Homo sapiens: one gene and its partners. The protein of the gene in region 3 purifies or fractionates together with the protein of the main gene of each other region. This does not show direct contact. Each region holds a gene or a part of one and is shown on either strand. Other genes may lie near its edges. The genes, in order: NADK2, METAP1, ITIH3, SLC35F2 and TXNDC15.

Region 1 (5,166 bases), on a different chromosome or scaffold from region 3:
TGTATATCAAGATGGTGTTGACAATTCCTCAGTTGTCTCGTGTTTTCTTCAATGGGTTTATTTTGCTCAGGATCCAAACATGGTGTACATACTGCATTTGATTTAAATTCTCTAAATCTTAAATTTAGGGTTTCTTCCTTTCTTTCCTTGTAATTTATTTATTGAAGAAACTATGTTATCTGTCCTGTGTTCTACATTCTGGATTTTGCGTCTATCCCTGGAGTAATAGGTTAATCTTTCCCCTATTCCCATAAACTGGTGGTTAGATCTAGCAACAAAAAGCTCTAGACCAGGGGTGATTTTCCCCCACCCAGGAGATACTTGGTAACATCTGAAGACATTTTTGATGGTCACAAGAGAAGTGCTATTGGCATACAGGCAATAGAGGCTAAGGATGCTGCTAACCATCCGAAAACAGGAAAGCCCCCTACAACAAAGAATTGTCTGGACAAAATGTCAATAGTGTCAGTGCTCCAGAGGCTTGTATCATCAAGTTCTTTTTTTTTTTTTTTTTAGCCAGGAGACACTTGATAAGTAATATCCTGTTCTTCTATTCAGATACATACCTGTCTGTTTCATTTTCACTGCTGTCACTTTACCTGCTCTTGGGCTCTTGATTCCTAATAGACCCTATCCACAAGCTCCAGAGACATGAGGGACACTGGCCAAGTGCAAAACTTTATTTCTGGATAAAGCGCTTGTGTCCTATCCTGGTGAACCCAATTACACTTCAACATTTATTGACCATCCACAATGTGCAGGATACAACAGCCCAGGAGAAGATGCAGAGCCTATGAGGAAACAAAGGCAAGTAGTCTAGAGACTGGGCAAACTAGAAAGAAACCTCTTGTCACTGCATACCCTAACCATGGAACAAGCAAGATGACAACCTCCTCTTTCTTTACTATTCCTCCCCACCTAGCCAAATATCCCAGAAAATCAAAGTTTTCTTCACCAAGAGACTAACCCTTCAAGATACAAGTCAAAGCCCTAAAAGCCTATACTAATATTATGGATAACTCAAAACGTAACTGCTTTGAGTTACTATGTTTTAGCAAATCTAAATACTAAAATGCCGGTATTTTTACATTTCTCTAAATACCAGAATATCTAAATTGTAATTTTGAGCATTAAAATCACTATATTTAAGGTATTCAGATTAACACTTAAAATATGCTTTTCTACTTTTAGCTCATGTAGTCAGTGATTTTCTTTAAAAAAAGTCTTAAAGCCCGTAAGACTTAAAAACTCTTCATACCTTAATGTAGAAAACTTAATAAGCCTTCTCACTGACTTATGCCCCAATCCCTTGAGTACTTTTAATGTTAAAGTCAAGAATAAAATGCCTTTGAAAAAATAAAATTGAACTATTCTTTAGTTAGACAACTCATTAGTACATTTACTCTTATCTCCCCCACCATTATATTTAGGTGTTGCATTATCCCTGGGATCTTTTCTGCATAATTGTCTTAGTAGATGCTATTCTTAAGTATAAGGATGCATAAATAATATTGGTACAATGGAATGAATTTAAGTGATTTAAATTCTAAATGTACATTATTTTCACAACTAAGCAAAATATATAACGTATCCTTAAACTTGTATTTGACAACTTTTTCAACTCAAGTGGATATTTTACAATAAAAATGTGTTACCTGGCTCTCTTTCTGCTTATTAAAAAGTGAAATCAATGTAGTAAAACATGTAATATGATTTAATGTACAGGGGCCATGAATGTAAATGCACAAGGAGTATCAAAAATATTAAGTCAAAATTATCTGAAGAGCCTACACTGACCAGGTAAGCACTTCACCCTGATTTAATAACTAATCATTCTATGTCAAATGTTAACAGTGAATGAAGTCAACAGGGCACAGAATAATAATACACAGCAGTGGGGAAACACTTCTGAAACATAACATTTTGTGAAAACTAGTTTTCAAATAATGACCCCTTGAGAGGGAAATAAGAAATGTTAAAAAGAAGAGGTAACAGTGGAGTAATTTTATTCACATAGGGTTGCGATTAAAAGGTTAACTCATTCAAACACATTTTTGCTATGCTAACATTCCTTTGCCTCTTATTCTTACAAATAAACCCCCATCACAGAGCAGAAATGTTAGAAATTATATCACAAATGGAGCACAATAAGTATTTTTAAAACCTTTTAAAATATGGCTTATAATTTTACACAGCAAGTTACCTATTAATATGTTACATATTAACAGATCTATTTGGACAATCAGATTTCCTTGAGATTAAGGATGGAGTTGGCATTTTTCCTTTAAGAAGGCATTTTAAGGCCGGGCATGGTGGCTCATGCCTGTAATCCCAATACTGGGAGGCCGAGGCAGGCAGATCACAAGGTCAGGAGTTCGAGACCAGCCTGACCAACATGGTGAATCCCCATATCTACTAAAAATACAAAAAATTAGCCAGGCATAGTGGTGCCTGCCTGTAATCCCAGCTACTTGGGAGGCTGAGGCAGGAGAATCGCTTGAACCTGGGAGATGGAGGTTGCAGAGCCGAGATCATGCCACTGCAGTCCAGCCTGGGTGACAAAGCAAGACTCCGTTCTCAAAAAAAAAAAAAAAAAAAAAGAAGGTATTTTAAGCCTGTTAGGGGAGGTTCTATAGTATGGAGCTTCTTTATAAAGTGGTATCTTATGTATATCAAAAAAAAAAAGCCAGATCAATCTCTGGGAAAACACTACATTTTAATGTATTTCTATCTGATATGTCATAAATTCTTTGCTATGAATGTCTACGCAGATACTTTAAGAAAAATTGATTCTCTGGATATACATCAAAACCTAGATTAACTTTGTACATTAACATTTATTTTAAAAAATTGATAAGAACAACATGTTAAATATTGGCAAAACTAAGAGCACTCAATTCGACTATCCGTCCAGCTTTCACAGAATTTACTTCTGAGCCCACAAGACTCAAATTGTATAAGGATAGAGTCTGTTTCATTCATCAACATATCCAGCACCTGACATAGTTTTACATGGCACAGAGTGGGTGTTCAATAAATATTTGTCAATGATTGAACAGAAATTTTCAGCACCAAATGAAAGAAACACATGACTTTGAACAACGGCACGAGAATACCAACTGTTTGATTATGCAACGACAGGATCTTTTGGCAAAAATTCTAGGATTACTTATAAGTAGATCAATAATTAGATAATAATTTCCTCCAAAAATAAAGGAATTCTCATGGGGAAAAAAAAAAAGTCCTAACATCTTATCCTAAAAGCTATTCTGTAAATCTTGGAATATAAGCTAGGTGAAAACCACAATACTAAGGAAGGCAATTCCAAAACTACTGTGTTTTACATATTTATTAAAGAATCCATTCTTTCTGATAATACTCCTAACACAGGTGAAGATATTTTTACAATATTTTACCAAACTCCTAATAGAAAATGTCTAATCAGTTCATCCTTTTAGTCCCTGAATCCATGTTTGAGCATTTTAAAGATGGAAGAAACCTGTAAGACTCATATCATTTTAAAAAAATTGACTTAAAACACTTATTGGATAACTAATACATTTGTAACAGCATCATGATTTGTTTTGCTATCTGTATTTCACCCAGAACTGCTGAATTACAGAATGAAACTCAAATGAAAGCATTCATCTATAATTTCAAAAATTATTATTTGAAATTTTTAAATCAATAGTCATAACATCATCGTGTTCCGAAATTAGAAAATTATTAGCACATATACAAACATATTTACCTATGTCAATTAGGTCAATGTCAGGATTTATCAAAATTCTCTGTCTTGAAAATTTTTTCAAAATCTTGGTTTTCAGGTACTATAAAAAATATGCACTAATCAAATGATATGTGTTCAGTTCTGACAATCCCACAATTAGGAGGAAAGGGAAGGAAAACACACTTATACAGTTAAGTTTCAAATCCTAAATATTTAGTCCTTTATTTAAGCCTGCCCCTCTAAATTTAAAAAGGTATCAGCACTCTTGGTTACCAATTGTAAGCAATATAAAAATTTCACTGGTATCAATTCTAATTGGTTCAGTCCATCCATTTTCTTATACAGTGAATGTCTTTTTTTCTATCAGAATCCAACAGAAGAATAATGCAAATCTCACTTCTGAGCCCACGGGCAAGCAGTCTCAACAATAACCAAAAAATGTCACTTTACGACTGGTAGTCTGTTTCTGAAGTAAAAATATTCTCGCCAGTAATCAAAATTTGTCATGAGGAAATCCTTCACTGTTCAAGAAGCACAGTTCGAAGCTCATCTTCTTTATTGATCATCATCGAAGCAATTGCACCATCATTAAACTCAAAAGAAGTTCCTCCATCCACAACCATACAGGCATCCCAACAACGAGAACGAACACAAACCCTAGGCAGAAGGAAATATCTCATTAAATAGTAATAGTTTTCTTAATAGGTTATTTTAATCCTGAATTTTAACCTAGCAGATCATTTGGCCTCCATTTTAAAAATCAAGTTGTTCTCTGGTATGAGAAAATTAGTCACTATGTAAATATATGGGTATATTATGAAGGTCTCAAAACGTTCAGGATGGCACCATTCGCTCAAGCATTTAGCAGTAAAGAAGTGCAGACCTGACTGAACTCACAGGCTGTTTTCATATGATTAAATGCTGAATTACTAACATTACAAATATTAAGTATTGAATAAGAGTGTTAACTATTTTCATGTAAAATTTGTACTTAAAATTTTTACTTAAGTATAACACATATACAGAAGAGTTGGGTACATGTAATTATGTATACAGGTATACACCCAAATTATTAATGTACAGTTCAGTGAACACACTTATGATCACCCAACTCAGGAATCAACTCTTACCCAGCTTGCTGGAAGCTCCCTCACTGCCTTCTCCCAGTCACTATCCCTGCTCCCTCCTCAAGCATACGCACCTTCCTAATTTCTATCACTGCAGTAGTAATAGCTTTGTCTGTTCTTGAGCTTTATATAAATGGAAGAATATAATATGCACAGTGGTGCCTGTCTTTTCCTCAAAAGTATGTTTGTGAAATTCAGCCATATTAGTACATGTAATAGTAATAGTAGTGTGTTCATTTTTAATGCTGTATGAAATCACTTCTGTTATATGAAAACACCAAAATTTATATCTCTCTTCTACTATTCATG
Region 2 (6,247 bases), on a different chromosome or scaffold from region 3:
ACAGACACTGAATAAGCCCACATTGTTAATTCCACAATCAGTACATAAAATGCTCCCCTAATATTCAGCATTCTGTCTTAAAAGCTCTCAAAAATATGGTTGCATCTCAAATGCTGCTGGCACTCTACTGAGTTTATGTACAGCCATTACACCTGAAAAAACATTTCTACTCAAATGGTCATGAATTTATTTTAGATTATCAAACAGCCTCCCCATTCCCACCATTTCCCTCTGAAATCCCAAAGAAATGCAGCAAAGTTAATGACTACATGGTAGGATAATCATTCAAACTTTTTAATCTCCCTTTACACATTATATTAACATTCATATTGCAAGGCATTCCATTCACAAATATTACAGTTTGATAAAAACTTCACACACATACTCCCAAAGTCTATACCAGATTCAGTCAACTTTACTAAATCATTCAAATAATAAAAGTAATGAAAACATTATTATATTTTAAAGCAATAAGGTCTGAGGCACTCTGGGAAAGATGTTCTCTTACAAGTATAATGTGTCAGTGGTATGAAATTATATTACAAGGATGCCCAGTAATCAAGTACACTCTAATGACAATGACTTTGTGATTTGATATGTCTTCACTGGATACACTCCTACTTGGACAACTGCTGAAAGGAACGTAGATATGGGGCAGCTGAGGTCATTTCTAATGAGGTTCCCAACTATGTAAAGGAGAGGTGTGTTTCCACACACGAAGGACAGCTGCATCTCTACTGCAAGGTTACAGTACACAAAATTCCTTTCTCATCACTATCACATTTACTCAACGTTAGATTTTAATAGCCCACTTGACCTCCTGGGTTCACAGCTGGAGACACTTTAGAACTCTTTCCCCATCCTCCACCATAGTGCAAACTTCACGCTTCTCTGAGCACCTCCAAGGTATGCCCTTGAAGTAAAACAGAAAAGGGAAGAAAGGGGGCTTTTTCTTTTCCATTTCTGACCAAACAGAGGTCTGAAATAGCAGTGTATTATGAAATTCTCATTCCCTGCAACAGTCAGCCACCACTTGGAAAATGGCTATTTTTGCCATAAACTAGATTTTTAAAAGCCTGATAACCTTCCAAAGTGAATTTTACTACATTCATTCACTGACACACAGAGTCCACATTGGAGAAAGTCTCATTGGGTGAGTGCTTCCCTATGCACAATTACAAGGGTAAATAATTAGCATGGGGGAGAGGGGAGGCCAAATCCCAACCAGGAATTAAATCACTGCAAACTATGGATCCATTTGTAAGAACATATAAACCTGTCAGAGCAGAAACAACACAAACTCCAGGTCACATAGTGTTTGGTAATTATGTATACAGAACTTAAAATGTATACATATATATTTCCATATATATAATTTAAAAAATCTGGTGCAACACATATTGCTAAGTTTCAAAGATTCTCATTTCCAATGTTCACCTGGAAAGCAGATGGCTCTTGATGGCTGTTTTGCGGCAGTGATAAAAGCAACTACAAGCAAGTTTAAGTAAAAGTGCTCAAAGGGCAAATGAGAAAACAGGTGTGCAGGGGGAGGGGGCTGAAGAGTTGAGCAATGTTTCCTTTATTCTTCTCAGCTTTTTCAGACCCAAGACAAGTTCTTGAGGACACACATCAAATGCTGTAGTCCTTTCTTATCTATAGTCAAAACAAAACAAGTGATTAAAAAAAGGTTCCTCTTCCTTTCTGTACTCTCAATAAAATGCATAGCACAGTAAGAAGGTACTGAGATGTGCCATCTTGGGAGAAATTAAAATTGAGACATGAAGTGAGGCCGTGCACTGTCAAGTCGCCGGGTTAGGATTTCACAGCCAGTGTCTGTGACCAGGAGGGTGTGCTCAAACTGAGCAGACCGCTTTCCGTCTCTTGTCACCGCAGTCCAACCATCTGGCCAGGTTTCATCCTGCCATCCGCCTTCAACAAACAAAAACAATTTCTTAGTTCACTCAGTTTTCTAAATGAACTCTATCAAGAAGAAAGCCAAGGAAAAAATTCACTACTAAGATCCTTATTTACATGCCAATTGTTTTAGCTAATGCCTTTCCAACTTCATTTTGGTCTTCAGTATGTTTGATGTTTAAATTTCATCAGATGTATTACAACCACATTTTTTATATATCCCAAATATCAAATCAAGATGGAATTTCCAAAATAAAGGCGCTGGATTTCATTTTAACAACATATTGATACCAATCACCACAACTTTGAGTAACAACCTTAATTAATTATATGTATCATTATATGTATCAAAGCATCACTATGTACCCTATGAATATGTACAATAATTGTCCATTTTAAAACAGGAAATTTTTTAAAAAGGACATTCTGCAATATGCTACAACACAGATGAACCTTGAGAACATAATGCTAAGTGAAATAAGCCAGTCATAAAAAAGCATATGCTTGGCCAGGCGCGGTGGCACACGCCTGTAATCCCAGCACTTTGGGAGGCCGAGGCGGGCAGATCACAAGGTCAGGAGATTGAGACCATCCTAGCTAACACAGTGAAACCCCATCTCTACTAAAAATACAAAAAATCACCCGGGCATGGTGTTGGGCGCCTGTAGTCCCAGCTACTCGGGAAGCTGAGTCAGAAGAATGGCATGAACCTGGGAGGCAGAGCTTGCAGTGAGCTGAGATCGCGCCACTGCATTCCAGCCTGGGCGACAGACCAAGACTCCGTCTCAAAAAAAAAAAAAAAAAAAAAGCATGTGCTTAATGATTCCACTTCTATGAGGTAGAGTACAGTAGTCAAAATCATGGAGATAGAAAGCAGAACAGTGGGTGCCAAGGTCTGGGAGTAGTGAGCAATAGGAAGGGAATGTTTAATGGGTTGAGTTTCAGTTTTACAAGATGAAAAGACTTTTGGAGATGGATGGTGGTAATGGGTGCACAACGTTATGAATGTATTTAATAATATTGAACTGTACATTTAAAAATGAGATGTGTATTTTACAATTAAAAAATCAGAAAAAAAACTTGAATGAATTTAGCTCTTTCCTAGTATAACTTGGGCATCTGACAAAACTATACTCAGCATATATTGTGAAGGAAATCATGTAAATGTTTACAGTTTTATTACAGCATTCAATTCCTGATATAATTTCAAAATGGTAGGCACACAAACAGATGGTGAGAACAGATTATACAGTGAAATTTTTGTGAACTATACCCCTGGAATCAGAAAGAGGGGCAAAAGAAAGACTGGTGTGAGAGCATAAGAAAAATATGAAGCAGAATGGTCTGGACAGGAGTTGAAACCAGAGAAGGGAAGCAAAGGGACAGTGAATCTGGGAGGCCATGAAAGAAAACTCAGAGAAAGGAGGGAAAGGGGGTGAAGGGGTCATAATGAGGGAAAGCAGAAAGCAAAGGCCCAAGAGAATGTGAAGCAGAGGTGGAATGAGAAAGGCAATTCTAGATACTACTGTAAAAGATGTATTTGCGAGCTTTCTTCTTTCAAAATTAGATGTTAAAAAAAAATCAATACTTTCTTCATTTTGAGTAATCTTTAGGTGAAACATATTACCTCTAGGACTCACTGCCTCAGACAGACAAATCCCAGAACATAAACTCTGTAGTGAAGTAAACTACTTTTGCAATATTAAATCCCAGGCTAAAAAGAAAATACGAGGCGGCCTAAAAAAGTTAACTCATGCCTCATCAAGCAACTAAAGATGAGTACATCGATGTTTTTCAATGTAATGGCCTTTACACAAATGGCCTTTACACAAATTTAAAACATTACTACTGTAATTTTATTGTGATCTGATAAAACAGGATTTTTAGTAATGTCAAGTCAAACTTATTTGGCTATTCTGAGGAAATTCTCCTGCAGATTTGAGACTTTCTAGTCCAGGGATTTAACCTAGCTGAGTTACACTTCAAGTATATCTGCTATAATTTGATGATTAATTACCTGTGCTGGCTGTATAGAAAGTTATTTGCTTACTGAAAACACTACATCATGGCTCACCAACCAGGTGCTAGTTAATGGAAATACGTAGCCAAAATGACAATTTCCTCCCACTATCTTTCTTTTCACTGCTAAATACTTACCATCTTTACAACTGGTTGCACGTGATCAGAACTTTATCCTTATTATAAGAGGATGACAAAAACTTTACTGCACATTTGTGCAGTCTTTTAAAGTATATAACATAACATAAATCATCTCAGTCTAGCAGCCCTGGGTGTTGGCAAGATAGAGATTCTAATTTTCATTTTACAGAAAACGCAATAAGGAACCAGCTTTAGAAGGCAGCCTCTAAAGTGACTTCAGTGATCCCCAGCCTCCTGGCATGCAGGCCCTTGTGTGAGCTCCTGCTCCCCTTGAGTGCGGGCTGGATTCAGTGAATCACTTCTAAGAAAGACAATATAGAAGTCACTCCCAAGACTGGGTTATAAAAAGACTGGAAGGATCAAGAGAGGGAGTATCCTTTAAAACAGGGCTCAGGACACACAAGCTCTACTGCTACTGCCTCACTTTGCATCCCCTAACCAGAAAGCTCCATTACCAGAATCACTCTGAAAATCTCGGTGAGGAGCCCTAATTGTGACTCCCAGTCTCCTATCACTGCTACAAGCCTGTCTGGAAGAGATGACAACAGTGGGGAGGCTGCCAGAGCCAAGTGTGCTTTCCAAGTGTCCTTGGTGTGCTTTCCCCACAATAGCTATATGATGCCACGTGATGACATGAGTACAGACCATGAAGGGTCAGAACAGCTCATGAGCTGAGTCTGACAAATTCTGCCAAGTAACAAGCTAAGTTACAGGCAAGCTACCCACCCTCTTCAAGGACCAGTTTCCTAGTTTCTATAATGGGGTAACACCTACCTTATAAATTGTGAAGAATTAAATCATATAATCATGTCTGCCTCGAACTGGGTGGCTCGTCAATGCTCTGCTCTGTTCCCTCCTCTTCCCTCTCCTACATCAAGCAAGAACGTCCGCACAGACTTGACCTGGGCACCTCATTATTACAATGCACCCTTTGACATGATCTTTATGAAAAGGGACCAGAATTCAAGCATTTCAGCATCTCCTGACAGAAGACTACCACGCAGAACCCATGCCGTTCTTGCCAACCCTCACAATTTTCAGTTCTTCACGATACTGAATCAAGTTTGAGGTGGGACAGGGAGTGAGTAGGAAGCAAAAAGCAAGCAGGTAGAAAAGACCACTGACATGATGAATTACCTAAAATACATATAAATTCAATTGAAAAATATCATGGCATCCTTTTTTCTCACCTTCACAAATCATTGGCTCAATTGTAAATACATGGCCCGACTTCATCACTCCAACTGCTTTATTTTCTGAAATCAAAGAAAAAAATCTCAAAAGGTAGCAAAACCAACAGTGTACTGTTGAACAGCTAACTAGAAAGAGTACATAACTCAAATTCCCATCAGTGATTGTTAAATTAATTACCCTGATTCCCTTTCTTAAAGTTCAACAAACAGGTATTATACTGGCAGCCATCTAATATGGTGCACGTATTGTCCTAGGCACATTTCAATTACGCTTATGTGTTCTCTAGGAAAACAGAGGTATTTGTAGGCTGTATTTCAGAGATGAGTATCACTTCTATAAAAAGAAAAGTGGCAAATAAAGAATAAAAGAAAAGTGCCTTGATTTCTATTACCTCATGATTAGAATTGCAATCACAGAACCAAGAGTTCCACTACTCATCCGGGTAGAGAAGCTCAAAGGAGAATGACAGATGTTTCAGATTATGCCAGAAATTTCCCACCGCTTTGGGGGGTAAGCATGTGTTTGCACACAGGTGCACAGCCCATAGAAACTACATGATTTTCATAATGTTTCATAAGCTGTTGTGTTTTTCTCATCTTCAAAGAAGAACAAAATCTATGCACATTAACCTACTTTTTAAAAAATAAGCTGGGTGCGGTGGCTCATGCCTATAATCCCAGCACTTTGGGAAGCCGAGGCAGGTGGATCACCTGAGGCAGGTCAGGAGTTTGAGACCAGCCTGGCCAACATGGCGGAACCTGTCTCTACTAAAAATACAAAAATTAGCCAGGTGTGGTGGCGTGCACCTGAAATCCTAGCTACTCAAGAGGCTGAAGCAGGGAATCACTGGAACCCAGAAGACAGAAGTTGAAGTGAGCTGAGATCAATTGCGCCACTGCACTCCAGCCTGGGCGATTGAGCAAGACTCTCTCAAAAATAAAAACAAGGCCGGGCGCAGTGGCTCACACCTGTAATCTCA
Region 3 (4,998 bases):
TCAAAGGGAAACAAGGGTACCCCACAGAAGACAAAAGCCCACCAGACTAATGTGCCTGGGCTGCAGGTGCTCTTTCCTCCTCTCGTTGCTGAGCAGGTGAGGGTGTGGGAGAAGTCTCCTCACCTGGTGACAATCAGCTGATGGTTCTTCACCACCAATGTGGCATCTGGCTTTGTGGGGTCAGAGCCTGGCCGGATGTCAGACACTTTAAAGTCAAAGGGTTGGAAGAATTGCCCTGGGAAGAAAAATATTCATGCTGTCAGCCCCTGGCCATTGCCACGGGTAACGTGGCCACTGGCCTTTCAGGGTTGATGCAAAGGCTGAATGGGGTGTTGTGAGCTGGGTACAGGGTGCCTAGGAAGGCCTTGTGTATGTCTTTCCCATGCTGCTCTCAGGCCTGAACAGCCTGCAGTCTGAACACTTCGTACCCAGCAGCCCATGCGTCTGTGCTGACATCCGGTGACTGTCCACCACGTAGAAGCCTAGAAAGTCACGGTGGACAGGATGTTTCTTCCACACCTGGTGTAGGACGACCACGAAGGTAACCCCATCTCCAAAGGAGACCACCATGTTCTTCCTGTTGATCATCATGGACAGCCTACGAGAGGAAGCCAGAAAGTGGCTGTGGGGCCCAGTGGCCGTGACACTGGGCATCTGACTCAAGGGCGTTTTGGTGGGGCCTCCCCTGTACATGGCACCCGAGGGCCCACAGACTCCAGAAACTATCTCAGGGGCGTTGGAAAGAGGATGCCTCATGCACACTGTCTCCCCTCCCGTGAGTGGATCCTTGAGTGTCTATAAGTGGGAAAGAGAGGGCTGGCCTATGAATCTGGAGGCCTGTGGTCCAGCCTCAGCTAAGCCACTGACTTCCTGAGTGACATTGGGCAGGCTCCACACCTTCTCTGAGCCTCAGTGGGAGGCTCTGGGGGATCTGAAGACAGGAGAGCTAAGAAGACAAGAGCAGCCACAGAAGAGGCAAATGGGGGCCATTATCACCTAATGCCTTCACCCAACCAGCTGAACTGTGCAGCTACCAATTCTGGCTCTGATAGGGCCCCAGGGTTTGGTTGGGGGCCACTATGGTCACCCTCCCCTGTGACAGGAGACTGGATTCTGGGGTCTCTGATCTTTCCTGTGACCCCCATGGATCTCCTGTCCTGGGATTTTTCTAAATCCCTCAAGAGCCTCCTTAGACTCTCACCCTGTAGTCCACCTTGGAGACCTTGTAGGGGAGCTTACCCATCCTGCGTGACTGTGACTGTGTCCAGCCAGCTGAAAGTGCTCGGCACGGCCCTGTTCCACAGGGTGATCTTCTCCGTTGTCACCTCCACCTGGAAGTCCATCTGAGCATTGGCGATGCCCAGTTTTCCAAAGTAAGTCTTTCTGGTCTTGGAGTCAGGGCTGCCTCTCTTGTCGCCAGTGATCTGCCCATTAACTGTGAGGCCTGCCAGAGGGATGGGGCAGGGAGAGAGACCAGCGAGAACTTCTGAGTCCAGATTGCCTTTAGGGGTGTGCCTTCCTCTTCAACCAGACTGGCTGAGGGGCAGCAGAGCGGGGGCCACAAGAGAGACCAGGACTTCAGAGCCCAAGCCTGTTGGTTCCTAGACACTCTAGGTTTGGGTCATGCTGGGACCTTATGGGTCTGCCACTTGCCTGGGCCAGGGAGTGTTGTTCAGAGAAAAGCTATTCCCCAGACACAGGCTGGGTCCTACCCTAGGCCCAGGTGGTCCATTCACGCTAATCATCTCCCAATAGCACTGGCATGTGGGGCTGAGCAAGCCTGTGGCCCTGGGCACTCCCCACCCCCAGGGGTTTCTTTGCATGTGAAGATGATGCCTTACTGGGCAGAGTGAGAACCTGTTCCCTGTGCCTACCTCGGGGGACCCAAGCCCTCCCAGGAAGAGCCCCCTGGCCCCGGCCCTAGCCCACAAGCCTCACCTGTGACTGCATCCTGAATAAGGCGCAGCACTGTGCCTGGGGCTTCATCGATGTTGAAGCAGAGGGCATCGTCTTTCTCCGGAATTTGGATGATGAAGTGGGGATCCCCGTCCACTGGTGACACATTAGAGAAGGAGCTGACTCCCGGGGCCTCTCATCATACCTGGGGCCTCCCCCAGCCTTCTGGCCTCCATGGGCTCGACTCCGAGACAGGCAGGAGCACGTGCCCAGGCCCCTGAGCCTTCCCGAGGAGCAGCCAGGGACTCACCATAGTAGTAGGGGTTTTGAGGAGGCTGGTAGCTGGCTGCAGATACAAAGGGAGAGAGGGCTGAGCTAAGCAAGTGGCCCTGGGAGGCGCCCGACGACCCCCATAGGAGTTCAGCTTATGCCCCTCCCCTCCCCTTCCCGCTCGCTAATGCCATTGCCCTCCCACCCCGCAATCTCCTCAGGGCACATTGTCCATCTGCCCATCCCGGAGAGCTGAGTGAGTAGCCACGGTGGAGGGACATGTGGCAGGGGCAGGCTCTAAGCAGTGGGAGGAGTGGCAGCTGCCAGCATGTACTCACTCAGGTAGGACATGGCGGGGCTCACCGGTGTGGCTGAAAAGCCGAAGGGCAGTGGTGAGCAGGGTCTAGGGGTTCCTTCTCCCCCAGCCCCGTGCCTTCCTCCTGTCTTAGCGCTGCTGGGCCCCAGAGGGGCCCCAACACTGGCAGATAGAGGTGGAGATGTGACTACAAAGATTAGGCTTTGGAAATCGGGCACGTCCAGGGAAGCCCTTTATGGGGCTGGTGGCAATGGGATGTGATTTTAACGTTGGCGCAGGGCTTTTTGATGTGGCTGAAATGCAAGCCATTAAGTCATCTTCTCTCTCTTGAGTAATGCTCACAGCAAACATCTGCCCCACCCCTGGGCTTCCCACCCCCTAGTTGGGGTGAGTGAGGCTCACGGCTGTCTGTTGCTTCTTGATAGTAAACACCCACCCACACGTGCACACAGGCGCACACATATGCGTGCACATGCATATATGTACTCACATGCACCGGTACATTTATCAGGGCTGTTCTGAGGGGAATGTGATGGCCCAGTCCAAATGTGCCAGTCCAAATGGAGGTGGGGCAGGCCAGTAGGGGCTGGGGAGGCCCTGCCTAGTGGCAGGGAGTTTGTGAGGTTCCAGTTTTGTGGTGAGAGAGGCACAGAGGACTGTGATCCCCAGCAATTCCCAGCATGGGCATTGGGGCCAGACTGCCTTGGCCTAAGTACCAGCTTGGCCATCTGCTGAGTCTGTGAGCAAACAGACTGAGCAAATTAACCCCCCGTGCCTCAATTTCCCCATTGTAAAATGGGGATCATAAAAGGGCCCTCTTGGAGGGTTGCTATGGGACTAATGAAGTATAAATGACTGACATGCTAAATTGCTCATTTTTGCAGGTCATAGATACTGTCATACTGATTGTGTCTCCCTGGGCAAGGGAAGCCACCCCCAATTAACTCACAGGGATCCTCAGGCTCAGAGAGGGGCACGTTCATGATTTGGCAATAGGGCTGGGCCTGAGCCCAGGTGTCCCAAGTGTGCCCCCATGGCTGGGGGTCCTATCTTGCTTGGAAAGGCCTCCTCAGTTCTCTCTTGTCTCCCTTCCATAATGCCCAACCCGGTGGCTGGCTAAAGGCTTACCTTCTGCATCTGCAGGTGCAGCAAGGGAGGAAGAAGAGAAATGCATTAGAAGCCATAGGGCACTTGTGAGCAGGGACCAGAGCTGGCTGCTTGGCCGACCAGCCCTAGGCTGTGGGCCTCCCAGCAGCCAGCTCTTCCCCCACTGGGTGTCCCCTGGAACTAGGAGTTCTTGGAAGCCAGAGGCCTGGCCTGGCCAGGCCCAGCTCTTTGCCTCCCATGTCTCCCAATGCCAATCCTCCACCACCACACACAGACCCTGTACCTAGTTGCAGTGGGCATTTGGGACCCCCTGTTGAGTAGGGCAATCTGGGGTCTGGTTGAGGGGGTCCCAGCCTCCAGCTCTCAGGGACTCTTCCCCTAACAATCTCCAGGTGCCTGATAGCCTGCTCCAGGCCTTTCATGTTGGAAGTGCTTCTTCTTGTCTAACTAAGCCCTTCCATGCTGCAGCCTCAGTCCTTTTCCTTGAAATGCCCCATGGGCAGTGTGCCCCCTTTACTCACTTCCCTTTAGAGGTGCAGAGGCTCCTATTCACCCCACACCCCACTGTCCATGCTGACTGCTTCACGCTCCACCCCACTTTCCCCATCCCGTGGCCAGTTTTCCTTCAGATGCCCTACTTCAGCAGGTCTGGGTCTCCCCAGCCTGGCCCACTCCTCCACTGGACACCCAGGTAGGGTGCCCAGCACAGGAGGCCTCCGGGTTCCGGCCTCCATCCCTATCCCCACCTTCCCCAGGCTTGTCGGCAATGGCCCTCTCATCCTCGTTGTCCTCAGGCTTGGTCACCACCATTGAGGTCAGTGGAGTCACAAAGTGATACTTGAGGGACAGGTCCAGGGCCCGGGCCGTGAGGTTCTCCTTCTCCTCGCCATGGGCGTTCTTGCTGTGAGGAGGGGCCAGTCAGGAGGACAGCCTGGAGAGCAGCACCCTGCCCACTTCCCCTGCACTGGAGCAGTGGACACAGCTGGGGATCCCCACTCCACCTTCCCCATTGTGGGGTCCCCCAGGGTACAGCCCAGTTGGGCTCAGAGAAGACTGGCTCACAACTCCCTGGGGCATGTGAACAAGCCCTGTTTCCTTGCTGGACCTTGGTTTCCCCACCTATAAAACGTAAGGACCGGCCGGGCATGGTGGCTCACGCCTGTAATCCCAGCACTTTGGGAGGCCAAGGCGGGTGAATCACCTGAGGTCAGGAGTTCGAGATCAGCCTGGCCAACATGGTGAAACCCCATCTCTACTAAAAATACAAAAATTAGCCAGGCATGGTGGTGCATGCCTGTAATTCCAGCTACTTGGGAGGCTGAGGCAGGAGAATGGCGTGAACCCGGGAGGCGGAGCTTGCAGTGAGCCGAGATCCCGCCACTGCACTCCAGCCTGGGCGACAGAGCGAG
Region 4 (6,783 bases), on a different chromosome or scaffold from region 3:
ACTGCAGAGAGTATTTAGCCCTATACAGTATATACTTTTTTCCTACACATACCTATAATAAAATTTAATTTATAAAATTGGCACAGTAAGAAATTAACAACTCATAATAAAATAGAACAATTATAACAATATACTGTAATAAAAGTTATGTGAATGTGGTCTCTCTCTCAAAATATCTTACTATACTCTAGTCACCTATTTTCAGAGGGTAATTGGCTGTGGTAACTAAAACCGTGGAAATCAAAACCTCAGGTAAGGAGGTGACTACTGTATATATTGCAAATAAAAAATCAAATTTGGTTAAGGAGAGACTTTATTTGTAGGGATTATTGCAAATGGGGATGGGTGGGGACTGTGGGGAAGGGTTCCTGCAGTAGGAGGGGGCCTATTCCCTACTGGTGGGAAGTGGAATGAAAAGGTGGCTCTCCACTGGATAATAGATTAGAGAATGTTTCACCCTGAGGCCAACTTCTCAGGAGGGGCTATTAAGGAGGGGTTACCTGCGGCTCAGGGTCAGGGTGGGTGAAAGTTCAGAGGTATGAGGGAGGAAGAGAAATTCAACCAAAATCTTTGATTAAAAAAAAAAAGGTGGGAGGCTTCTTTTCTTTTCTCTTTCTTTCTTTCTCTCTTTCTCTCTTTCTTTCTTTTTTTTTTGAGACAGTCTTACTCTGTTGCCCAGGCTGAAGTGCAGTGGCACGATTTTGGCTCACTGCAACCTCTGCCTCCCGGGTTCAAGTGGTTCTCCTGCCTTAGCCTCCCAAGTAGCTGGGATTACAGGCACACACCAAAACGCCGGGCTAATTTTTGTAGTTTTAGTAGAGACGGGATTTCGCCATGTTGGTCAGGCTGGTCTCGAACTCCTGACCTCAGGAGTAATCCGCCCGCTTCGGTCTCCCAAAGCACTGGGATTACAGGCGTCAGCCACCGCGCCCGGCCTAGGAAGGTTTCTTAATTGTCATTACTTTCCAGGAGCACAGGGCTCAGGTAGAATTCAACGTTGTCAATATGCAGGGTTAAATGAGTTGTTTACTTTACAAAAGTGACATCTTAAATGTGCTTCTAATGTCCTCTTGTTTCATAATATGCTTGTATTATAATACTTAATTAGTCTCTACGGATGACCACGTTCTTAGTTTCAAAGGTTTTTTTGAGGTTCCTGCAGCTGCTAAACTTGGGGTTCCTGAAGTAATATTTCATTTTCGAAAGCTGTTTTTTTTCTTAGACTCCTCTTACAGAATTGCCAGCTCGTCTGCACAGCCTGTCTATTTGAACCTACGTTTATTTTGACCCACCCCAACCCCCAAAGCAGGTGGCCAGGAAAAAATAAAAGGTCCCAACACCTTTTCTTTTGTTTTCTGGATCTCCTCCTTTCCGGAAGCAGGGGGTCAGTGACAGGAACTTTTCGACCCCAGCTTAGTGTCTCTTAATCCCTCTTTAGCCCGTGGAAGCCTCGGAAGGCGTGGCCAGGGCAGGGCATCCAAGCCGAGCGCCGGGGGTTGGCACCGTCTCTCTCCCTGGCACGGCGGAGACAACTGAATACTGAAAGACAAAACCAACACACCGCGAGGAATGAGCCACGCCTCCATCCACGCCACAAAGGCACGTTTCCAAGATCTTTTTAGGATCTTACCCATGTTTTGCAGGGAAAAGCGACACAGACCTGAAGCGCCTTCAGGTTTTTTTTTTTTTTTTTTTTTTTTTTAAGACGACGTCTCCCTCTGTTGCCCAGGCTGGAGTGCAAAGGCGCGATCTTGGCTCACAACCGCCGCCTCCTGGGTTCAAGCGATTCTCCTGCCTCAGCCTCTCGAGTAGCTGGGACTACAGGCACCCGTCACCACGCCCGGCTAATTTTTGTATTTTTAGTAGAGACGGGGTTTCACCATATTTCCCAGTCTGGTCTCGAACTCCTGACCTCAGGTGATCCACCCGTCTCGGCCTCCCAAAGCGTTGGGATTACAGGTGTGAGCCAACGCGCCCTGCCAGCCTTCAGTTATTTTAATGAAGCGATTTTGTACAAATCAGCCAGAGGGAGGGAGAGTGGGAGGGAAGAGGAGGGGTCAGCCAGTCCTTCCAGTTAGGAGAGTCCCGGCTCACTCACTGCTTCTAACTCACTGCTCACTCACCGCTTCTTAGCTTAGGAATCACCTACAATAACCTCGTGTCACTGTATCTTGTGATTTCAAACAAGGAACCCTAAAAACCTGAAGGCACACTGGGTGCCGCTCAACAATAAGGCTCGGCTGCCAAGACGAAAAAAAAATTGCCCTTTCTCCTCCTGCCACCCTGGAGGTGCCAGGTTGTAATCTGCAAATGTATTGTCTGGCCCTTAGGGCTTGACAGTTAATGATTGGTCGCTGAAGGAGCCGAGCGGAGGAGCGAGAGGGACGCGAGCAAGCGAGCGAGGGAGGGAGCGCAGGGCCAGAGCGGAGCCCCAGCCGGCCGCACAGGCACCGCCTCCCGTCTTCCGGGACCCGGCACTTCGGGGGTTTTGGGCGCCGGAGACGCGCAAGGGCGCCGATGGAGGCAGACTCGCCAGCGGGCCCCGGCGCCCCAGAGCCCCTCGCGGAGGGAGCGGCGGCCGAGTTCTCCAGCCTGCTGCGCAGGATAAAAGGCAAACTCTTCACCTGGTGAGTGGAAGGGGCGTGCTGCAGCTCCGCTGGGGCGTGGGGGCGGCTGCGGGCCCTGCGCGCACGTGGACAAGGAGCACACTCTCTGAGGCCCCCAGCAGGGAGGCAGAGGTGGCGGCCGCACGGACTTCGGTTCGGGGCTCAACACGCACACCAGGTATGGTGCGCTTCACCTGGCGTCGGGAAGCACTTGGTGCGTCTCCCTCGGCTCCCGTTTCGAAATCGTGGCGATGTATTTTGGAGGATTTGGGGGGAAACCCACCCTGTGGCACTATTAGGTCGGTCCTCTGGGGCGTTCCGCGGTGGAGGGACGAGGTCCCCGGGGATGCTGTGAAGGAGGAGTGCCCACCTCGGGCTGGGCAGGTGGGTGAGCGCCACTTCCTGGCGCCGGCGCCCTCATTCCATCTGCTGCCGAGCCAGCCAGACTGGGCGCGGTGATTCAAGAGTTGACCGAAGTGAGAAATCCTGGTTAAGTTTTGTGCTGCTGCCGGGTGGGAGACCAGAGCCGGCTCTCTCTTCCTGGGCCTGAGCGAGGTGATATAGCCACCCCCAGGGCTGGGGTCCAGGGAAGCCTGTTTGTGGTATCACTATGCTCTGTGCGAAGTAGGGACAAATGTTTTTAAGGAGTGGGCAGCGACTCTAGAAAGCGTTTCTGTGGTTGCTGGAGGACTTGCACTCTGGAAATGAGAGAACCCAGGACCTAAATAGTGAAAGACATTTATTGGGCACTCGCTCTGTGTCAGGTACTGTGCATAACAATTTATATGGATAATATCAGCTAATCCTCACCACTTTAGGAGATGGTACTATTGTTATATCCACTTTGCCGCTGGAGAAACAAAGAAGGCTAAGCAATTTGCCCAAGGCCACAAGATGATCTTTAAGGGGTGATGCGTTCAAGCCGTAGTCTAAACAGCGTTGGCCACTGACAACTCATGAAACAGATATTTGATTTTTTTTTCATATTAACAAAGCGAATTTCCCTTTAACGATTGTGAAAGATAGTCCTGAAAAGCCATACCATTTTAAAAACGAGATCGATAAAGGTGTAAGCATTTTTTATCATATAAATAGTTTGAAATTGATGCATGTGTTTAAAGGGGAAAGTTGGCCGAAAACCACCTTGTAGCATCCAGTTGTGTATGTCCTGATACATTTGTTAAAAGTTCTCAGCTGGGAGGCAATTCAGTGTAATGGCTAAGGGCACTCACATTCTGGACTCAAATCCTGGCTGGGTGACCTTGGACAAGTCAGTTCTCTGTGCTCCAGTTCCCTCCCTTCCCTCCCTCTCTCCCTCTCTCCTTCCTTCCTTCCCTCTCTCTCCTTCCTTCCTTCCTTCCCTCTCTCCTTCCTTCGTTCCCTCTCTCCTTCCTTCCGTCCTTCCTTCCACAAGTCAGTTATCTGTACTCCAGTTCCCTCCCTCCCTCCCTCCCTCCTTCTTTGTTCCTTCCTTCCGTCCGTGTCCGTCCGTCTTGGACAAGTCACTTAACTTCTCTGTGCTCCAGTCTCCCTCCCTCCCTTCCTTCCTCCCTTCCTTCCTCCCTTCCTTCTGCTGGGTGACCTTGGACAAATCAGTTCTCTGTGCTCCAGTTCCCTCCCTCCGCCCCTCCCTTCCTTCCTGCCTTCCTTCCTTCCTGGACAAGTCACTTCTCTGTGCTTCAGTCTCCCTCCCTCCCTTCCTTCTTGGACAAGTCACTTAACTTCTCTGTGCTCCAGTCTCCTTCCCTCTTTTCCCTCCCTCCCTCCCTCCCTTCCTTCCTTCCCTCCCTCCCTTCCTTCCTTCCTGCCTTCCTTCCTTCCTTCCTGGACAAGTCACTTCTCTGTGCTCCGGTCTCCCTCTCTCCCTCCCTCCCTCCCTTCTTGGACAAGTCACTTAACTTCTCTGTGCTCCAGTCTCCCTCCCTCTTTTCTCTCCCTCCCTCCCTCCCTCCTGACGGAGTCTCATTCTGTCACCTTCCTTCCTGACAGAGTCTCATTCTGTCACCCAGGCCTGAGTGCAGAGGCTCTATCTCAGCTAACTGCAACCTCAACCTTTCGGGTTCAAGCGATTATCCTGCCTCAGCCTCCGAAGTAGCTGGGATTACAGATGTATACCACCACGCCAGGCTAATTTTTTCATGCTTTTAGTAGAGATGGGGTTTCCCCATGTTGACCAGGCTGGTCTTGAACTCCTGACCTCAAGTGATGCACCCACCTCCGCCTCCCAAAGTAGTGGGATTACAGGCGTGAGCCACCGCGCCCAGCCTGTGCTCCAGTTTTCTTATTTGTAAAATGGAGATAATAACAGTACCTACCTTGTAGTGCTGTTACAAGGTTACTATGCAGGAAAGGGCAGACAGAGCCTGGCTCCTTTCAGTGCTCTATATGGGTTAGTTGTCACCATTAGCTCTCTATTCTTGGGTGATGGGAACATTTGGTGATTGCTTCAGGAGATGCCAGTGGCCTTGAGGCTGGGGCAGATGATATGGCAAGATGTATGTTTAACAAGATGTGATAAGAATTAACAATGATTTTCTTTTCTTTTCTTCTTCTTCTTTTTTTTTTTTTTTTTTGAGACAGAGTTTTGCTCTTGTTGCCCAGGCTGGAGTGCAGCGGCACGATCATGGCTCACTGCAACCTCTGCCTCCCGGGTTCAAGTGATTCTCCTGCCTCAGCCTCCTGAGTAGCTAGGATTACAGGCGCCTGCCACCATGCCCGGCTAATTTTTAATACAGACAGGATTTCACCATGTTGGCCAGGCTGGTCTTGAGCTCCTGACCTCAGGTGATCCATCTACCTCAGCCTCCAAAAGTGCTGGGATTATAAGCGTAAGCCACCGTGCCTGGCCTGATTTTTTTTTTTCTCTCCTAATGTTCTGATACTTTTGGAATCCGGGTATGTTTTATAATCAGTCTAGTAGCCTCCTAAATATGAGATTTCTTTTGTCTATGAATGTCCTTTTTATGTATCTCTTTGAGGGCTTTTTCCTTTCTTGTGGAATAGCAGTTATGGGCATTTTTTTTTTTTAGACAGAGTTTCACTGTTGTTGCCCAGGCTGGAGTTCAATGGCGCGATCTCGGCTCACCGCAACCTCCGCCTCCCGGGTTCAAGCTCTTCTTCTACCTCAGCCTGCCAAGTAGCTGGGATTACAGGCATGCACCACCACACCTGGCTAATTTTGTATTTTTTGTAGAGATGGGGCTTCTCCATGTTGGTCAGGCTGTTCTCGAACTCCCAACCTCAGGTGATCCGCCCGCCTCGGCCTCCCAAAGTGCTGGGATTACAGGTGTGAGCCACACGCCTGGCCATGGACGAAGTTCTTTAACAGCAAAAATGGTGTCTTTTTCTTTTTTATATCTACCACAACCCTTAGCACATGAATGAATGAATGAGTGAATGACTGAGGGATGACAAAGGTTCACAAGTCTTCCTTTCCATTCTGCCTCCCTCCCTGAACTCTTCCCTTTATTGGTCTTTATTCCAAGGGTCTTGGGCTGAGCTTCTTGTTTGGTTGGCTGGGCTCTTTTGTTAATTAAAGTTTCCATTCCTACCTCTGGCAGCCATCCAAGCACTTGGATTTTGGATTGCAGTTTCTCTTTATCAGACCCAGCAATCAGAAAAGAGTGGTTTACCAGATATCCAGTACTCCTAATACTCAATATTTTAAGCTTTGTTGTCAAAACTCATGTCCCAAGTTTGAGTAGCTTTGTGAATCCCCACCTGTGGCCAGGGAACCAAGGGTGGGAGAGTGTAGAAAGAGGTTGGTGAATGGATATGATGTGTTATCACCATATGGGCAAGATACAGAGAGAGATTTATAACCACATAGCTCATTTCTATTCCTTTTACCAAAAAGGGGCAAGAAGAGGCTTTTTGGGCAACTGGGTACTAAATACAGGGAGAAGATTGGGGCATAGAGCTTGTTATGTTTTCATTATGAGGAGGATATGTTCTAAGTGACCCCAGCTCTTAATATACCTGCCCCCATAGGGTACAGACAACTTTTCTCTATGATTAGGAATATCAGATCACTCATTCAATAAAAGTTTATTGAACACTTACCATGTGCCAGACATTCATGATAATGAGAACCATATATTCCTTAGTGGAGTGTGTAATTTTGGCTTTTGTGATTTATTACTGTCAACTCAAGTGAAAAATATTGTGATAGAAGACC
Region 5 (6,247 bases), on a different chromosome or scaffold from region 3:
GAATAGTGAGGATTATCATACTCCTGAGGGAGCTGGTGGTGTCACTTTATGGAGGCCCCTTAAAGAAAGTGGGCTGTTCTCTGTGTGGTGGATTTAAAGGTGGCAGGTGGTAGCACCTGATGGCAGGGGAGGGGCCAGAAGACTTTTGAGGGCCATAGCCAGACTGAATCAGCACAATTGGTATCACAGTAGGATATTCCTTTGTGACTTTAAGGCGCAGGTTAAATCCCCATCCCAGGCAGCCCAATTCCCAGCACCCCTGTTTTGTGTCTACTCAGGATTTCTTCCCTTCCTTTTCTTTTTCTTTCCTTCTTTTCCCTTTCCCTCTTTCCTTCTTTCTTTCCTGCGTACTTATTCTTGCAGTCATGTTCTGTAGTAGGCACTCGATCAAGTCATGAATTAATTTAGCTCTTTAACATGACATTTATCTTTGTTTTATATTTCTCGTGTATCATTCACTGGGTTTTTGTCCAGGCTGGCCTTGAACTCCTGGGCTCAAGCGATCGTCCTGACTTAACCTCCTGAGTAGCAGGACTACAGGCATGCGCCACCATGCCAGGCTGGTCATTTTTTTTTTCTTTTTTTTTTTTTTTTGAGGTGGAATCTTGCTCTGTCACCCAGGCTGGAGTGCAATGGTGTGATCTAGGCTCACTGCAACCTCTGCCTCCCAGGTTCAAGTGATTCTCCTGCCTCAGCCTCCTGAGTAGCTGGGATTACAAGCACCTGCCACCATGCCGGCTAATTTTGTATTTTTAAACGGGGTTTCACCGTTTGTTGGCCAGGCTGGTCTCGAACTCCTGACCTTGTGATCTACCAGCCTCGGCCTCCCAAAGTGCTGGGATTACAGGTGTGAGCCACTTTTTGTCTTTTTTAAATGTTTAGTAAAGTAAGTTACAGAGAACTTTGTTGAGATGGTATATGTTTCTCCTAAGTGCTGCGATTGTGCCTGAGTTATAAACTGTTCTTCTCTTCCAAATCAGATGCTCCTTAGTAGGTCAGCCTCAACAAGGAGGTTGTGTGTAAATAAATCTAGAACATCTGAAAAATGGTCAATTGGTGGTAAAATGAAGTTGAGTAAACTTCCATTACTCTGTACTTGAGGCCAGGTGCAGTGGCTCACACCTGTAATCCCATCACTTTGAGAGGCCAAGGTAGAAGGATTGCTTGAGCCCAAGAGTTTGAGACCAGCCTGGACAACATGGCAGAACTCCATCTCTATAAAAAAAAATACAAAAAATTGACTGAGGATGGTGGCACATACCTGTGGTACCCCAGCTACTTGGGAGGCTGAGGTGGGAAGATTGCCTGAACCAGGGGAGGTCAAGGTCACAGTGAGCCGTGATCCTGTCACTGCACTCCAGCCTGGGCTACAGAGTGAGACCCTGTCTCAAAAAAAAAAAAATTGTATTCCACTGATTTTCATTGTGGGAATATAACTGCCAATGTTTACCTGAAACTTTTATGAAGAAAGAAATGGCTCAACAAATTAGTAATTTTCATATAGGCTTCTGGGTTATATCTAAGTGACTGGGCCCAAGGGAGCAGACTGATTGGAAGGACAGATCACGTCAGTGTCCAGCTTTGGTGGGGCCTCCACTGCCCCCAGGCATACTCAGTGCTCTTTGGTTCTGGGTCTCACACTGTCCCTCCTGCCTCTCCCGCAACTCCCTCCCTAACCTGCTTTCTTCTTTCCTTCCTTCAGCTCCATGTTGTATCTTAATTATGGAGACTAAGGCTCTTGCTGTTATTATATGGGCTGGGACATGTTTGCTTCTTATGTTAATATTTAAGTTACAGCATGTGTACAAAAGAAAAAAATCCTGGTTATACACTATTACTATTTTACTAATGCGGAAAATTGAGGCTTAGCAAGGTTAAATAATCTGCCCAGAGTTCACATTGGTTCAGTGGCAGAACTGAGGCTTCAACCCAGAGTGTTTTGACTTGGGAGCTTATCACCACTAGTCTGTATTATGTAAAGGTGAAATAAGCCCGCACAGTTATATTCCTTCTAAACAAGTCATCCTGCCCTAATTGTGAACATCCTGGTGTGTTTGTTAGATCATATACTCCCTTGTGCCAGCTTACCAAACCAATTGCCTACTGTAAGTTGATCTTTTTTGAGGGACAGGGATGGGCATTCTGAAGAGTTGGAAATTTTTTCTGTCAAATAAGTTGACACAGTGTGCTTTGTCCATGAATTAGAGTTTTCTGGTCTGGTTTGTTTAGACAGGAACTTAACTAGTGGAATAATTGTGCCATTGGTAGATCCATATTATAATTGAAAGCAACTCAGATTGCAGAAAAGGAGTGCCCCCCAGCCATGACCCATAAGCAAAGAGGTCAGAAACAAATGAAAAAGCCAAAAGTTTCAAGTATCAGAAATCTCCGTAGGTCACACGCAACTTCCTCATTTATTTCTGTCTATTCTGAGATGGTAATTGTATGAGAAAGCCCTCTATTAATAATAAATTCAGGTTTTTTGACTTCTTTCTCTTGTAGCCTTTCTACCAGGTTTGGCACCGTAGCTGTTCCTAATATTTTATTATTTCAAGGAGCTAAACCAATGGCCAGATTTAATCATACAGATCGAACACTGGAAACACTGAAAATCTTCATTTTTAATCAGACAGGTATGTGGAAGTAATGTGCTGAGGAAGAAGATATTCTATTGCTGGGGGTCTGTGCCTTCTGTGGGTTCTGATCTGCTATAATCCTTAAGTGAAGGATTCAAGACTGACTTTGAGTTGTAAAACTTCTCTTCTAATGAACTGTTATGATCCTGTTAAATACTTCCCAATCAGTATGAAGTTTAACATGAATAGGTAATTTTAATTATTATAGATACTTTTTTTTTCCCTTTTTTTTTTTTTTTTGAGTCTTGCTCTGTCGCCCAGGCTGGGGTGCAGTGGTGCGATCTTGGCTCACTGCAACCTCCACCTCCCGGGTTCACGCCATTCTCCTGCCTCAGCCTCCCGAGTAGCTGGGACTACAGGCGCCCGCCACCATACCCGGCTAATTTTTTGTATTTTTAATAGAGACGGGGTTTCACCGTGTTAGCCAGGATGGTCTCGATCTCCTGACCTCGTGATCCACCCACCTCGGCCTCCCAAAGTGCTGGGATTACAGGCGTGAGCCACCGCACCCAGCCTTTTTTTCCTTTTTTTTGAGGCAGAGTCTCACTCTGTTGCCCAGGCTGGAGTGCAGTGGCATGATCTCAGTTCACTTCAGCCTCCGCCTCCTAGGTTCAAGTGATTTGCGTGCCTCAGCCTCCAGAGTAGTTGGGATTACAGGCGTGTGCCCAGCTAATTTTTGTATTTTTAGTAGAGACAGGGTTTCGCCTTATTGGCCAGGCTGGTCTCGATCTCCTGGCCTCAAGTGATCCACCCGCCTCGGCCTCCCAAAGTGCTGGGATTTTACAGGTGTGAGCCACTGTGCCCGGTCTATTATAGATACTTTATTGTTTGATTGACTGAGACGGAGTCTCGCTCTGTCACCCAGACTGGAGTGCAATGGCATAATCTCAGTTCACTGCAACCTCTGCCTCCTGGGTTAAAACGATTCTCCTGCCTCAGCCTTTCTAGTAGCTGGGATTATAGGTGCGCACCACCACACCTGGCTAATTTTTGTATTTTTTAGTAGAGACAGGGTTTCGCCCTGTTGGCCAGGCTGGTCTTGCACTCCTAACCTCAAGTGATCTGCCTGCCTTGGCCTCCCAGAGTGCTCAGATTACAGGTGTGAGCCACCGTGCCTGGCCTATTATAGATACTTTAAAACAAGTGTTACTGAAATATAATTCACATACCATACACTTTACTTATAACTTTTAACGCACATTTTTCACTTAATATTTACACAAAGATATGCATAAGTCATGAGTGTACAGGGTGATGAATTTTCACAAAGTGAACACCCTGGGTAACCACTCTGATCAAGAAACAGAGCACTGGCTTATGCCTGTAAACCCAGGAGTTTGGGAAGCCTGTGCGGGTGGATCTCTTGAGGCCAGGAGTTCGAGACCAGCCTGGCCAACATGGCGAAACCCTGTCTCTACTAAAAATACAAAAACTAGCTGGGGATGGTGGTGGGTGCTTGTAGTCGCAGCTACTCGGGAGGCTGAGGCATGAAAATTGCTTGAGCCCAGGAGGCAGAGGCTGCAGTGAGCTGAGATCACAGTACTGCATTCCAGCCTGGTTGACAGAGTGAGACTCCGTCTCAAAAAAAAAAGAAAAAAAAAAAGAGAAACAGAACATTACCAGCCTCCCTTCAGCACCACTGCTCCTGCCTTCCCCAAAGATAAAGATAACCACAGTCTTGACTCCTAATATCATAGACTGTGTTACTTGTTTTGGACTTCATATTAATGGAGACATGCAGGATGTTTTATTTTGTGTCTGTTTTTTTCATCCAACAGTATGCTTGTGAGATGCACCTGCATTGTCATGTATGGTTATGTTTTGTTCTTTTTCTTTGCTGCTACTGTTCCATTTATTAATCCATTTGTAGATGCTATCTTAGTTCCTTAATATTTGCCAAAACATATGGCCTTATTTTTTATTGTTTGTAAAACATTGTAAAGCATTGTAAATTGAAAAAATTACCTCCATTGGAAAAGTTCATTCCTCTAAAGCCTCACTGTCTCAATTGTGAGCATCCCACTCTTCCCAAAGTATGCTCACTGGAAATAAATAAAAATTATAACACACATTGCATATATATTAAATTGCATATAATCATTTTAGCTAACACTAAAGAAAAAAGAGCTGAGTTGGCTGATAGGAGTAAAAGTAGGATATTACAAGGTGGTTAGCTAGTCCAAGTCTTGTCATGGATCCCTGATTGTCATTTCGATTGATGTGTGGAGAGGGAGCCATTTTATTCAGTGCTCTAAGAAAACCTAGAACACAAATCTGGGAGTCAGAGCATCTTTGGTAATCCCTGTTTCCGTTGGTGGCTTGTTGTTATAACAGTTCTTTCAGTAAATTATTAAAAGCATTTTGGGGCTGGGTGCGGTGGCTCACACCTGTGATCCCAACACTTTGGGAGGCTGAGGTGGGCAGATCAACTGAGGTCTGGAGTTCGAGACCAGCCTGGCCAACATGGTGAAACCTCGTCTCTACTAAAAATACAAAAAAATTAGCCAGGCATGGCGGTGTGTGTCTGTAATCCCAGCTACTTGGGAGGGTGAGGCAAGAGAATCGCTCGAACCCAGGAGGCGGAGGTTGCAGTGAGCTGAGATCGCACCACTGCACTCCAGCCTGGGAGACAGAGCAGGACTTCATCACAGAAAAAAAAAAAAGCATTTCGAATTTAGCATTACTTAACCTGTGAAAACATTCTGTAGACACCTGAGAGGAGTTTTACTAGTTACTTACTGAACTTTGGTCTCAAAAGACACCAAAATACAACTCTTATAAACACATTGACTAAGAAACTTCTGATGAGTTCACAGAAATTCTAGTGTTTTAGTTGTGAACAGCTGAATGGGTTCCTGATCCTTTGATGCAGTGGGGAGAAAGGCAACTTACAAATTACACTGATAGGCAAGTGAAATCCATCCCATATATTTATATATATACTAGTGGCAATGCTTATTTTAGGACTGCATGTCATTTTGCATACCATACATAATACTTGAGAAAAATCTGTGGTGGGTGCTTTTTCTGCCTGATTTGAAACCAGTGATTTTTCTTTCAGGTATAGAAGCCAAGAAGAATGTGGTGGTAACTCAAGCCGACCAAATAGGCCCTCTTCCCAGCACTTTGATAAAAAGTGTGGACTGGTTGCTTGTATTTTCCTTATTCTTTTTAATTAGTTTTATTATGTATGCTACCATTCGAACTGAGAGTATTCGGTGGCTAATTCCAGGACAAGAGCAGGAACATGTGGAGTAGTGATGGTCTGAAAGAAGTTGGAAAGAGGAACTTCAATCCTTCGTTTCAGAAATTAGTGCTACAGTTTCATACATTTTCTCCAGTGACGTGTTGACTTGAAACTTCAGGCAGATTAAAAGAATCATTTGTTGAACAACTGAATGTATAAAAAAATTATAAACTGGTGTTTTAACTAGTATTGCAATAAGCAAATGCAAAAATATTCAATAGATGCACTATTCTTGTTTTTACTGCATGAACGTAATCCAGTATTTGGAAAGTAATCCAGTTTGAAATGTGAAGATGTATTCCGGCAGAATAGTGAGTAGAATGACATGCTTACTATACAGAAGGCAAAAATAGGACTCTCAGGT

The links.
Region 1: the proteins of ITIH3 (region 3) and NADK2 fractionate together in Homo sapiens (co-fractionation; one large-scale study listed by BioGRID). This does not show direct contact.
Region 2: the proteins of ITIH3 (region 3) and METAP1 purify together in Homo sapiens (affinity purification with mass spectrometry; one large-scale study listed by BioGRID and IntAct). This does not show direct contact.
Region 4: the proteins of ITIH3 (region 3) and SLC35F2 fractionate together in Homo sapiens (co-fractionation; one large-scale study listed by BioGRID). This does not show direct contact.
Region 5: the proteins of ITIH3 (region 3) and TXNDC15 purify together in Homo sapiens (affinity purification with mass spectrometry; one large-scale study listed by BioGRID and IntAct). This does not show direct contact.

Annotation. Positions count from the first base shown.
Region 1 is NC_000005.10:36,190,896-36,196,061, forward strand, and holds the end of NADK2 (NAD kinase 2, mitochondrial), read right to left. Parts: intron 4,388-5,166; coding exon 4,249-4,387; 3' UTR 1,805-4,248; coding exon of another isoform or gene 1,726-1,804; 3' UTR 1,694-1,725; downstream 1-1,693. UniProt on the Homo sapiens protein: Mitochondrial NAD(+) kinase that phosphorylates NAD(+) to yield NADP(+). Can use both ATP or inorganic polyphosphate as the phosphoryl donor.
Region 2 is NC_000004.12:99,056,836-99,063,082, reverse strand, and holds the end of METAP1 (methionine aminopeptidase 1), read right to left. Parts: intron 5,331-6,247; coding exon 5,265-5,330; intron 1,930-5,264; coding exon 1,766-1,929; 3' UTR 274-1,765; downstream 1-273. UniProt on the Homo sapiens protein: Cotranslationally removes the N-terminal methionine from nascent proteins. The N-terminal methionine is often cleaved when the second residue in the primary sequence is small and uncharged (Met-Ala-, Cys, Gly, Pro, Ser, Thr, or Val).
Region 3 is NC_000003.12:52,803,347-52,808,344, reverse strand, and holds part of ITIH3 (inter-alpha-trypsin inhibitor heavy chain H3 isoform 4 preproprotein), read right to left. Parts: intron 4,491-4,998; coding exon 4,336-4,490; intron 3,620-4,335; coding exon 3,611-3,619; intron 3,084-3,610; coding exon of another isoform or gene 2,973-3,083; intron 2,538-2,972; coding exon 2,505-2,537; intron 2,243-2,504; coding exon 2,207-2,242; intron 2,053-2,206; coding exon 1,939-2,052; intron 1,445-1,938; coding exon 1,240-1,444; intron 760-1,239; exon of another isoform or gene 623-759; coding exon of another isoform or gene 599-622; coding exon 429-598; exon of another isoform or gene 396-428; intron 236-395; coding exon 124-235; intron 1-123. UniProt on the Homo sapiens protein: May act as a carrier of hyaluronan in serum or as a binding protein between hyaluronan and other matrix protein, including those on cell surfaces in tissues to regulate the localization, synthesis and degradation of hyaluronan which are essential to cells undergoing biological processes.
Region 4 is NC_000011.10:107,854,502-107,861,284, reverse strand, and holds the start of SLC35F2 (solute carrier family 35 member F2), read left to right. Parts: upstream 1-2,497; 5' UTR 2,498-2,517; coding exon 2,518-2,627; intron 2,628-2,705; exon of another isoform or gene 2,706-2,784; intron 2,785-6,783.
Region 5 is NC_000005.10:134,893,792-134,900,038, forward strand, and holds part of TXNDC15 (thioredoxin domain-containing protein 15 isoform 1 precursor), read left to right. Parts: intron 1-2,502; coding exon 2,503-2,633; intron 2,634-5,697; coding exon 5,698-5,894; 3' UTR 5,895-6,247. UniProt on the Homo sapiens protein: Acts as a positive regulator of ciliary hedgehog signaling. Involved in ciliogenesis.